Regions from separate parts of the Homo sapiens genome. Here region 2 is linked to region 1. Evidence: fine-mapped expression QTL. Tissue or cell type: whole blood. Region 1 holds a variant in brackets; the other region holds the start of a gene. All regions are shown on one strand. Distances are between the middles of the regions.

The links. PIP is the estimated chance that this variant, and not a neighbour inherited with it, causes the effect.
Region 2: ZCCHC4 starts here. The variant in region 1 is fine-mapped to the expression of ZCCHC4 in whole blood (TOPMed, PIP above 0.99).

Annotation. Positions count from the first base shown.
Region 1 is chr4:25,365,059-25,371,703 of GRCh38, forward strand. It overlaps ZCCHC4 (zinc finger CCHC-type containing 4), which reads left to right. Exons shown (of 13, transcript NM_024936.3): 12 at 1-108; 13 at 3,971-5,325. The coding sequence ends at 4,106. Among named protein-coding and RNA genes, the nearest start is that of ANAPC4, 8.9 kb to the right of the region's middle. The variant A/T (reference allele first, on the strand shown) is at 4,282.
Region 2 is chr4:25,309,547-25,316,191 of GRCh38, forward strand. ZCCHC4 (zinc finger CCHC-type containing 4) reads left to right here and starts at 3,228. Exons shown (of 13, transcript NM_024936.3): 1 at 3,228-3,390; 2 at 4,500-4,618; 3 at 5,772-5,854. The coding sequence starts at 3,264. RefSeq lists enhancers at 475-534, 1,155-1,294, 2,882-3,758, 3,287-3,346 and silencers at 3,007-3,076, 3,084-3,288.

The DNA.
Region 1 (6,645 bases):
TCCAGATCATTCTTGTGAGGGCCCCAAACATGGCTGCTTTATTTGTGGTGAACTGGATCATAAACGCAGTACTTGTCCTAACATTGCTACATCTAAGAGAGCTAACAAGTCAGTCGAATACTTTACTAGAAAAATGTATTCCATCTGTGTTTTATACAGGATAATCCACAAAAGCATGCAACATTCAGAGGATCTTGAAGTGCCAAGTTAATTGTCACTTTCACTATTAAGTACTGGCTGCATAGATGGATGGAGGGAGGAGAGGAAGATGATTCAAAGAGCTTGCTTTCAAAGAGCTTACAGTTCTACAGCTTAGAGATGAAAATAACCAAAATATGAGGTAGAAAGTGGTTAATTTTACCTCTCCTTGGCTTTACGTCTCATGTGTAAAGTTATAGGGGGTGACAGTTCATGCTTTATTGAAGGACATGATATTTACGTCAGGCTTTGAGGGACAGATCAGATATAGACACATGATGGCAGGAAAGGCTGGAGAAGGCATTTCAGATTGAATAGCAAGTAATTCCACAGTAGGAAAATTGTGAGAAAGCTATTTCTTTGTATCAAATTTTAAGAAAAATATTTAGACATGCTTAATGCTTAAATATTTGAAATTTTTATTACTTTTTTTCCTGTGATTATTTTCACATCTCTCACCAATATTTGATTGGAGCTATGGATTACAACTCAGAGTATGGGGATACCTATGACAATAGCTTATTTAGAAGAGGCACTGCTTCTGGAATAGTTATCCCCAAAACAAAACAAAAAGAGAAAAACATTGCTATTTTAACCGAGCTAATTTGAATGATTATACTTTTTTCCTAACTAAAAGGGATGATAGTGATTAAGTCCTCTTCCTTTATTGCTAAGAAAACTAATGTTACACAGTTATTAATTGGAGATTACCAGACAGCTAAATTTGACATTATATGAAATTATATGACATTATATGAAAATTCAGATTGGGCTACCATGTGACTATGACTTGTAATTTAAAAAAATTGATTTGTGTTAGAAATATCTGATAGTTTAATAATTATTTATGGTAATATTAGAATTCTTTCCCATGTGTTTTATTTATTTGTGGTCAGTGAAAATTTTTTTTTCCATTGTGGTCTAGCCACTTGAATTCTGGCTACTATTACAACTGCCTCGTTCCTACATTTACTCTACTTTAAATAATTATTTCCACTGAGTAATCCAGGATAAAGTAGAGTTTTAAAAACTTAAAGAAGCTTATTGAAGAATCTTTTTTTTTTTTTTTTTTTTTTAAAGACAGAGTCTTGCTCTGTCGCCCAGGCTGGAGTGCAGTGGCCTGATCTCGGCTCACTGTAAGCTCCGCCTCCCGGGTTCATGCCATTCTCCTGCCTCAGCCTCCCTAGTAGCTGGGACTACAGGCGCCTGCCACCATGCCCGGCTTACTTTTTGTATTTTTTAGTAGAGACGGGGTTTCGCCGTGTTAGCCAGGATGGTCTTGATCTCCTGACCTCGTGATCTGCCTGCCTTGGCCTCCCCAAGTGCTGGGATTACAGGCGTGAGCCACCACGCCCAGCCTGAAGAATCTTATAAAATATTTTCCTTAGAATAAACCTTCAAAAATTGAATACAACTTCATAATCATATTAGTCTGGGATTGCTGTACCATTGTCAGTGTGATTCTGTGTGGTAGTCAGTAACGTGCTCAGCCTTTAATTCTGTGAACTTACATGGAAACAATTTGCATTTTGATACTCTATTGTAGGCCCTTCATTGCTTCCTAAATAGCCTCAGCTAGTGTGTTTGGCACTAATATACTATTTCATTAGGGGAAATCATCTAGTATCTTTCAGGACTAGATCTTATCAGGTTTAATTCCAAGAGCAAATCCTGTGAGATGTGGATGCCTGATAATTCTTAAATAATATTACTTTTTTTCTCAGAGAAGACACCTAAACTCCTGTTAATAGTTACTGCTTTCAAAAAATATATATAGTGAAATTGACAAAGCAAAATTATTTTTTTCTTTACAATAGTGAAAAATAACAGCCTTTTTAGCATACGTGACATAAAAGGTCTTTCCAGCTCATGCATTTTACAGCTATCTTATATTAATTTGTTTTTCCTTGGTGTTAATTTTTCTTTAGTTGCTAACTGGAATGATGCTGGCTCCCTCTTGTGGTTAAAGCTCATTTTATCAGTTACATAAATACCTATAATTTAAAGGACAAATACTAGGTCAATTTAATTTTAAGACAAAATAAAACTGACTTATAGTCAGTTCATCATCATTCAAAAACTTTATCTCTGGAAAGTTTTGTGTATTCATATTACAAATGAATATTTTCAAATATTTTCCTCCTGTTTCTGTTTACCGTATCCCCTAGTGAAAGTTCATTCATTTTTAGTCCTGCTTATAAGTGGATGAGCCAAAGAGAAACTTAAATTTTGTGTACAGGCACACATGGCTTCATTGACTTTGCCATTAGAGATTATACTATATTTCATTAAGTTTGCTAAATCATCACTTATCAAGAAATTATCCTACTTTAAAAAAGTGGGGAAATAGATTTATATAGTATGCATGAATCAGTATAATACTGTAAAGATGACTTTTTTGGTTTTAGTTTTCAATCCTACTCCTTCTGTAGACTGTTCTATTTTGAACTGATAAGGTATCCCTAGTCCATAGTGCAAAATCTAAATATGAAAAAATTTAAAGTTGTCAAGCAAAATTCTGCATAATAGTCATGTGGAACTAATAATAGCTAATACTTATTGAGTGATTATTATATGGTTAGCAGTTTGCATATATAAATAATTTAAAGTAGAGTATATAGTAGAGCACAGATCCTGGAATCAAGCTGGTTCTGCAAGTTCCTCATGGGGTGTTCATTGATTTCATAGCATTTTCACCTAAAAAAGTAGGGATAGAGAGGGGGTGACTATCCCCCTTATCTCTGTCTCCCAGCTCCTTGAAGTCAAAGATTATGCCCATTCATTTTTGTTTTCTCAACAGGTAACATATGCTGAGTAAACAAAAAGTGAGGCATAAATTGAACCCATTAGGGGATACATTGTTTATGAAGCTCTTTTCCCAGGTTTATTCCTGACAAGATCAAGAATAAGCTTTTCCTATGGAGAAGCTTATGAGAGGTGAACCTAACAATTGATATTGCTGGGTAATCAGGGGAGGAGTCCTGGTTTGGCATTGTTGTAGCTCTGGCCCCTTCCTTGGTTCTCAATATGTTGAGTGTCATGGCATGATTCTGCTAGCTTGGAGAAGTGAATGGATGGGCCAGTCATTTTCTCAGCTGCAGGTCGCCTGTAACTTAGTGTGGAGAACACCAGAAACAAAGAATCTGTTTTGTCTGGTGTGGTTCAGTGTTTTCAGAGGGTGAGTTCCAGCTTGTTTATTTTGAAGCTAATCTTCAAGATAAGGACCACAAAATGCTGATAACCCTGCGTGGCACTTGTCAGGACTTTTAGATCCGCTGAGGAAAGGAAAATCTGTACGACTTAGGAAACAGGCCCTTTCAAGGCTTCTCGGTTTTTTCCATTGTGCTGTTTCATTTTTCTGTCTCTGCTGACTGCCCCATGTATCAGCTCCTCTCCAAAAAAAACGGAATTCAAGGATTTGGAGATTGAAGTGCTGAGTTGAGCAATACAGATGTACAAAAAACTTTTTTAAAAAGTCCAATCTCACTAGCTTTGCATTTACCTCTGTGGTGTGTTTGCCCCGGACAGCTTGTTCTAAATCCATAGTAACCATCTTTTAAAGAATTTTTTTTTCTCAAACATTTTGCTTGGTTAGGCCTCTGACTCTTCCCTTGTTGTTATGGTTAGGAGACTGAGGATTTATGCTTGCAATACAGTAGATTCTTTCCCTTCTTCTATTTTCTTATTTGGTTAGCTAGTTAATTAAACTTCAACATAATTACATAATTCACTGTGCTCATTCTGTGAAATAATTTAGCACCTTGTTTTCCAGAGCTGTCAGAAAGCAGAAGCAAAGAAAAAGTAATAAGATGAAAATGGAGACCACGAAAGGACAATCCATGAATCATACATCTGCTACAAGGAGAAAGAAAAGGAGGGAAAGAGCCCATCAATATCTTGGCTCTTAAATGTCCAGTGACTGGAGAATAAGAAAGATTTATGGTCCAACCTTTGATGCCATTTTCTGAAAGTGCCACACTGGACTTAAATTCAGCTGCTTCCAGAGGTGTGCACCTTTCTGAGCTAGATAACAGGCAGGTGGCATTTGCTGGTTTACAGTCCCTTATCTGCCTCTCTGGAGAC[A/T]TGGGGAGTTGTTCCATCTTCAGCCAGTTTACTAGTTCTTTCAGCATTCATTTTTCCTCACTTTAAGTCTCTCCCAGTCACATTGTTCTATTTTTATGTTTTCATTTTTTTTGAGATGGAGTCTTGCTCTGTCTCCCAGGCTAGAGTGCAATGGCACAACCTCAGCTCACTGCAACCTCTGCCTCCCGGGTTCAAGCAATTCTCCTGCCTTAGCCTCCTGAGTAGCTGGAATTATAGGCACATGCCACCACGACTGGCTAATTTTTGTATTTTTAGTAGAGACGGGGTTTCACCATGTTGGCCAGGCTGGTCTCGAACTCCTGGCCTCAAGTGATTTGCCTGCCTTGGCCTCCCAAAGTGCTGGGATTACAGGCATGAGCCACCTCACCCAGCTCCGGTCACATTATTCTAGCCTTTTTATCCAAAAAATGGGCAGACCATTCTTTTGCAGAAGATGTCAGAAGAAAATGAAAGTGAAAACCTATGCAGTTTGTTTACCGTGAACATAAAAGTATGTTAATTTAAATAGGAAAATATTTTATGTTAAATATGAAACAATAGTTTAAACCCCACTTGAAAAGTATAGCGTACAATTATTTTTAGACTGAATTTGAAGATGATGGAAAGGGTTTTTACAAAGGCACTGTTTAGATATACAGATTATAATTATAATTACATTATTATTAAATATTTATTCTTCAAGTACTTTTTGCAGTTGTCCTCTGACGGTCTAGAATCACTTAAATGCTTGTTGAATGAGTGAGATGTTTAGAACTACGACTTGCTCTGTCATTCCAGTGTCGTTTAACCTATGCAGTAAGATTCTGTCTTTGTAAAAGTAGTTCGTAGCAGAAGCCAGGATAGTTTGGTAATTAAACGCCCAAACTAAACTCCTCATTCCTACCCTTAATATTTCCTGGCTGTATGATCTTGGCCAGGTCACTCTCTAAAAGCCCCGGTTTCTTCATTATTATCATTATTATAATGGGGAGAATAACAGCTATACCTGAGGTTTGTTTTGTGATTAAATTAAATGAGACCCAAGTGCTTGGCTCTCAGTTCTCCTCTGTCATTGGTGTGTTAGGTTAACAATGAAGATTGTTACTGGGTCTAATGGTAATTACCTTTTGGCCTGATAACAAAGCATTGAAGGCAGTAATTTGAACTCCCAGAACAAACAGTTCATCTCCCCGTTTCTGTGCTAGTTATTGTCTCCTTAAGACTGAATTGTTTTGAATGACTTATATTTGCATAATGACTTTTCTCTTGTTTCCAAACAACTGCTGTAGAGCAGATTTGAAGGCATCTTTGTTTGGGGTTAGGCAGAGCCCTGTAAGTAAGGGTGGAGGAACTGCACTCTATCTGGTATTTAAATTCCAGGTAAGTTAGGACTGATGCCTGGTGTAGAATGCTCAAGTGTGGCCCAGATCAGTGTGGCAGTGGTGTACATCAGTTGATGTCAAAAGATGAGTTATACCCCTGGACTTCATAAGCATCAGAAAGCTCTTCTCCCTTTTGTTACATGGAGGGCTATGATAGGAGGGGCACATTTGGAGGTGACTGGGTGAGATATGAAGTTTGTAAAACCGTTGTGAGAGTTCCCCTCTCTGATTCAAGCAAGGATAGGGACATTGCCTGACTTTATGGTGTTCACCATTCCATGATAAAATCTATTGAAATCTCCTCTGAAACTAAGACACCTGAGGGACTATGACTACTGAAAAATTGAGTTCTGAAGGCCAACAGTTATTCTCATCACTATATTGCCTTAATGTTAAGATACCATCAATTATAAAATACATCATTGATTTTATCATAGCTTTTCAGGGGGAGAAGAGAAATAATACTTCATTAATTAATTTTTAGATCATCTGATTTCAGAAATACTGAAATGCAAAAAAAAAAAAAATCTTAGAATTGAGGAAATAGTTATAATCAGGAATAATGTACTTATTTATTTTGAGACAGAGTCTTGCTTTGTTGGACAGGCTGGAATGCAGTGGTGGGATCTCTGCTCACCGCAACCTCTGCCTCCTGGGTTCAAGTGATTCTTGTGCCTCAGCCTCCCTGGTAGCTGGGATTATGGGTGTGTGCCACCACACCCGGCTAATTTTTATATTTTTGTAGAGACTGGGTTTCGCCATGTTGGCCAGGCGAGTCTCAAACTCCTCATCTCAGGTGATCTGCCCGCCTCAGCTTCCCAAAGTGCTGGGATTACAGACGTGAGCCACCACACCCAGCCAGGAATAATGTACTTTAAAACTTTATTACTGTCTTAGAAAGTTAAAAATAGGAAATTTGGTGATTTTACACTTATATTCAATTAATACTAATTTTAAGGACTTAATCTCTATTCCTTTTTCA
Region 2 (6,645 bases), 56 kb before region 1:
AAAAAAAATTAACTGGGCATGGTGGCATGTGCCTGTAATCCCAGCTACTTGGGAGGCTGAGGCAGGAGAACTGCCTGAACCTGGGAGGTGGCGGTTGCAGTGAGCCAATACTGCTCCACTGCACTCCAGACTAGGCGACAGAGTGAGACTCTGTTTCAAAAAAAATTAAAAAAAAGAAAGAAAGAAAGCTCACCAGTTTGACCAGACAATCGGCTGGGAGAGTAGCTGAGTTCCAGCAATCTTAGCAGCCTGGGACCACGCTCTGTGTGATAAGTGTCTCATGCATCCATGTGAAGAGATCACCAAACAGGCTTTATGTGAACAACAAGGCTGTTTATTTCACCTGGGTGCAGGCGGGCTGAGTCCGAAAAGAGAGTCAGCCAAGGGTGGTGGATTATTATTAGTTCTTATACGTTTTGGGATAGGAGGTGGAGTTAGGAGCACTGTGTTGCGGGCAGGGGGTGGATCTCACAAAGTACCTTCTCAAGGGTGGGGAGAATTACAAAGAACCTTCTTAAGGGTGGGGGAGATTACAAAGTACATTGATCAGTTAGGGTGGGGCAGAAACACATCACAATGGTGGAATGTCATCAGTTAAGGCTATTTTCACTTTTGTGGATCTTCAGTTGCTTCAGGCGATCTGGATGTATACGTGCAGGGCGTAGGGGATATGATGGCTTAGCCTGGGCTCAGAGGCCTGACAATAAGTGTAATCTAGGTCTCTCCTGGTGCTTAGGCCTCAAGGGACCTATTTTCAGTTCTGTCTCTGGCTTCCTTTCAGAACCTTGCTGAATCTCTCAGTATGTTTCTACTCAAGCATTTTCCTGTGCAGACTAAAGACACTATCAGGAAATTAAATGAAACATGTATAACTTATTGGTCATATTCATAATCCCATCAGTAAATATTTAACACAGGCTATTTACCATATATATATCTGAAAATAAGGTGAGTTTTTTTTCTCCCCAAAATTATCCCTCTGCAAACAAAATGGCCTGATGTTTGAAACCTTCAGCAGCTCTCACATTTTGCAGTGCCCTCCCATTTACCTTATTTGGATCAATCTTTGTTGTGTTTTTACTGTTTGGGGAAGCTTATCTGTAAAGGCTGCACATCTGTACTGGTTTTGGCTGCTTAGAGAGGTTGCCTCACAGAATCAGCATTATTTAAAAGAGAAAGAGGAAATACAGACTCAGTAACTCTGGTTTTACGAGTTACAAATTCACTTGCAAATTTTATAAACAAGTCTTTTAAGATCACAAATTTGTACATCTAAAACAAATTTGTAAATAAAAGTGCTAGAGTTCATGTGAGTAGGTAGTTAGGTCTTTTAGTTTTTATTCTGCCTAGGGCACTGTCTCAAGGGGTCCTGAGAATGTGTGCCCAGCTAGTTAGGTCTTGAGATAGTGTCCGAGAGTATCATCATCATAGCTGTAGAAAGTTTCCTATCTCAAAAGACCAGACATGTGCAGATAATATACACTGAAAAAGTGTTCTGGACAACTTGAAAAAGGGGACACTGGTACATCAAAGATACAGATGCTACTGGTGCAGATGGAGAATTTGAGTAAAACCATTACATGAAATGTGAAAGAAAAACAGCCATGTTTTTACAGTAATAAACCATAGCACTCAATGTGTGAAGTTAACTAGGCACATGCCCCAATGGTTCTTTAAATAACATAAGAGACTATTTCGTCTACAACCATAGACATGTGGCTGCGTCTTGATTACTGCACTATAAGACTTGAAATTGAGTAGGCTGATTCCTCCCACTTCATTATTCTTTTTCCAAAATTGTTTTAGCTATTTTAGTTCCCTTGCCTTTCCATATAAATTTCAGAATATTGTCTAAATGTACAAAAAGAATCTGGCTGGGATTTTCATAGCAATTGTGCTACACCTGTATAAGCATTAAACCTGGGGAGAACTGATATCTTTACTATGTTGAGTCTTCTGATTTATGAATGCAGTATGTTTCTGCATTTGTTTATTCTTTGATTTTTTTTTTTTTTTTTTAAGACGGAGTCTCACTCTGTCACCCAGGCTGGAGTGCAGTGGCACAATCTCGGCTCACTGCAAGCTCCGCCTTCCGGGTTCACGCCATTCTCCTGCCTCAGCCTCCCGAGTAGCTGGGACTACAGGTGCCCGCCACCACGCCTGGCTAATTTTTTTGTTTTTGTATTTTTAGTATTTTTAGTAGAGACGGGGTTTCACGGTGTTAGCCAGGATGGTCTCGATCTCCTGACCTTGTGATCCACCTGCCTTGGCCTCCCAAAATTCTGGGATTATAGGCGTGAGCCACCGTGCCCGGCTATTCTTTGATTTTTAAAAAACTTTAAAAATTGCTTATTTATTTTAGAGATGTCGTCTCGCTTTGTTGCCCGGGCTGGTTTCGAACTCCTGGATTCAAGCAATCCTCCCTCCTTGGCCCCCCAAAGTGCTGGGATTACAGGTGTGAGCCACTGCACTCAGCCTTGATTTTTTTTAATCAAGCATTTTGGAGTTTTTAGCATACATAAAGCTCTGTACATATTTCGTTAGATTTACACCTATTTCATTTATTTGAGTGATTGTAAGTGGTATTCTATTTTTTAGTGTTCTTGTGATCATTGCTAGTATTTAGAAATCCAGTTGATGTTTGTGTGTTTATCTCATATCCTGCAACCTTGCTGAACTCAGTTTAAACCGGAGGTGTTTTCCTGATAGATTCTTTCGGATTTTTAAAATGTGGACAATCATGTCATCTGCAAATCAGGACGGTTTTCTTTCTTTCTTATGTATAAATGTCAATGAGTATGCAACTATGATGTGCAACTTTCAGCATTGTCCAAAAGTTACAGAGGATGATGCAGTGACTGTGACTTTGAAAAACAAAGAATGATCCTTAAATCACAGCTGCTGCAGCCATTTCAGCTATTTGGCAGAGGTGGTAATGCTGCCTTTTGGACCTACAATACAACCAAGTCTTTGTTCGAATCATCTCACTTCCTGGCTATATTCTTAAGAAAGGAGGGTGCTTCATGCGCTGAGCTCATGGCACAGGTCCCGCAAGTGACCTGCGAGCCCCACCGCTAGGGGCCGCTTAGGTGCAGCCCCCAGGTGGGCGGGGACTGCGTTTCGGGGCGTGGCCTCCGCCGCGGCAGCCCCCGCCCAAGCTCCTCCTAAGCGCCTGGGGGCGCTGTGGGTCGCTTTGGGTCGCGGGGGCGCTCTTTCTCAGCATTCTTGTTTCGTACTGAGGCTTTCGGGACGGCGGCGGGAAGATGGCGGCCTCCAGGAATGGGTTTGAAGCCGTGGAGGCAGAGGGCAGCGCAGGGTGCCGGGGAAGCTCGGGAATGGAGGTGGTGCTTCCTTTGGATCCTGCCGTCCCCGCCCCGCTGTGCCCTCACGGTGGGTCAGAGTCTGGGCTCAGCCTAACTGCCGGGCGCTGAGGGTGTGAGTTGGCTTGGAAGTGGCTTTTGGGGCTCCTGTATTTTTACCCGCCTCTTTCCCTCACCAGTGTGCTGCCTAGAAAATACTCCTTCCTCGGAACGCGGTGTTTTTCAACTTACTTGAGAAACATTCAGAGCAAGTCTCCACTCTTGTGGTTTTGGCTCCAGGACTATTTCATCTCTTTTGGGGGGAAGGGGCAGAAAAGTAGGCAAAGAGAAGAATGCATGGTATTGAATAGTTCTCGTTGACAAGTACTTGGGGATTTCATTTGTTGATTTGCTCTCCCTTCAAAAATAAAAAATTAGGGAGAAAAACAGTGTAATTCTTGCCTGCGAACTAGACTCAGTTTTTCTCTAACTTACAGAAAGTGGGCGTTTCCAGCTCAAAGCTCAGGTTTTCACTGCAAGGGTAACCGCGCAAGAGATGTCAAAGTCCTCAATTCTCTGAGTCCCTTCCTTGTTTTAGTCTCAGGTTTGTAATATTCACAACGTAGACAGCAACTGTACCGACAATAGCATTTTCTTTCTGAAGAGACCGGTTTTCAAAAATTATTTATAAGTAGTCACTGCCGGAATGTTGTAACAGAGAGAAAAGAAACATTCATTAAACACAGAGAAGCCGGCGTGGTGGCGTGCACCTGTAGTTCCAGCACTTGGGGGGCCGAGGCGGGCTGATCGCTTGAGCCCAGGAGTTTGAGACTAGCCCGGGCAAAAATGATGACACTCCGTCTACAAAAAAAGAAAAACAGCTGGGGACACGCAACTGTAGTCCCAGCTACTCGGGATGCTGAGGCGGGAGAATCGCTTGAGGCTAGGAAGCAGGATCTCAGTGAGCCATGATTGTGCCAGTGCGCTTCAGCCTGGGCGACAGAGGGAGACCCTGTCTCAAGAAAACAAAACAAAAAACCCTAACAAAACAAAAAACAACCAACCAAAGAGATGGATTTAATTATGATAAATTGTGCCTAAAGCTCAAACAAATTTTATTTAAGGGCAGCGAAAACTAAGAACTTGACGTAGATGACCATTACTTGACACTTTTTTTTTTTTTTTCTATTCTGGAACTAGGACCCACTCTTCTGTTTGTAAAGGTGACCCAAGGGAAAGAAGAAACTCGGAGGTTTTATGCCTGTTCAGCCTGTAGAGATAGAAAAGACTGTAATTTTTTTCAGTGGGAAGATGAAAAGGTATATCAACTTTTTGGATATTTATTTTTTATTTTTGGTATGTGTGACAATTTTGTTGAGAACGTGTAAACCAATAAAAATATGCGGTCTGAACATACAAGATAAATCTCTTAAGAGAGATGGAGATACTATGTTTGTTGGTTCAGAAAATGAGTTCATGTTTACTCTGATTACTGATATCTTAAACTACTGTCTCAAAGTCTTATTTCCCCATAAGACTCTCTGAGGTGGTAATATTGGGTGGGGCTGATCTTCTGTGTGTTAGCTTGGGCTTCTGTAACAGAAGTACCATAGGCTGTGTGGCTTAAACGACAGACATCTGTTTCTTACAGTTCTGGAGACTGGGAAGTCCAGGATCAAGATGCTGGCAGATCTAGTGTCTGGTGTAGGTCCTGTCCTCTTCCTGATTTGCAGAGGGTCATCCTTTCTTTATATCCTCATTTCCCAGAGAGAGGAAGCAAGCACTGTCTGTCTTAGAAGGACACTAATCTCATTCCTGAGGGCTCTACCCTCTTGACGTAATTACCTCTCAAAGGCGCCTCATTTAAATACCATCACATTGGGGTTAAGGCTTCAACATACGAATTTTAGGGGGCACAAACATTCAGTCGATAGCACCGTTGGCAGATACAGATTGCTCACTAAAGAGAAATCATGATCATTCCAGAAAGTGTTAAAAAACACTTTTTTTGAACATTTGCATTGAACATCCCTTATACAGCTATTAGATGACCAATGAAGGCACTTAGAGATATAGTCATGAGCTTGGTATCCTCTTGAACTCGGCTCCAGTTGAAGTTTCTGAAAACTTTGACCAGAGAATTTTCAGTTTTGTTAGGTTTATGGTAAAACAGTATTATATACCACTCTTCTGCAGACCCATTAAGGTGAATACTTGGTTTGTGTCCACCTTTTTGCTATTGTGGATGATGCTACAGTGAACATATGTTAATCTCTCAGTGCTTTAATATGCTGGATATTGCTTCAAGCTGCTCTAGAATTTTCCCAGTTTTCGCTGTTTTGTTTTCTCCTGAAATGAATGCCTGTTGAGTTGGTTGAATTTCTGACTTCTTGATGTCAGAATGTGATGCCAGTTCTTCTAGGATGATAGATATTTCACAGTTTATTCAATGGGTTTTGTACTCTCTTTCAGTTGTCAGGAGCTAGACTTGCTGCCCGAGAAGCTCATAACCGAAGATGTCAGCCTCCCCTGTCCCGAACGCAGTGTGTGGAAAGGTACTGATGCAGTGTCATTTTTCTTTATTAGTTTAGCTGTCATTTTTTTTGTTATTGCCTTTTTCTGTGCCTTTAAGTTTACTTTCATTTATTTATTTTTATTGTAGTTACATATATAATATAAAATTTGCCATTTTAATCATTTTCAAGTGTGCAATTCAGTGACATTAAGTACATTCATGTTGTTGTGTAACCATTGCCCCTATTCGCAAAACTTTTTCATCACTCCAAACAGAAACTGCCACCATTATGCTGTAACTCCTCATTCTACCTCCTCCCAAACCCTAGTAACCTCTGATTTATTTTTGTGTGTTTTTTTTTTTTTTTTTGAGACAGGGTCTCACTCTGTGTTGCCCAGGCTGAAGTGCAGTGGTGCTGTCACGACTCACTATAGCCTCAACCTCCTGGGCTCAACCAGTCCTCCACCTCAGCCTCATGAGTAGCTGGGACTTCAGGCACACGCCACCACACCCAGCTAATTTATTATTATTTTTTATAGAGATAAGGTCTTGCTATGTTGCCCAGAACTCCTGGTCTAGAACTACTGGGCTCAAGGGATCCGCCCACCTCAGCCTCCCAAACTGTGAAGGTTACAGGCATGAGCCATTGTGCCCGACTATTTTTGTTGCTATGAATTTGACAATTCTGTGTACCTCATACAAGTGAGACTATACAATATTTGTCCTTTTGGGTCTGGCTTATTTTACTTAGCATAATGTCTTCAAGGTTCATGCATGTGGTAGCATGTATCAGAACTGTATTCCTTTTTACAACTGAATAATATCCGTTGT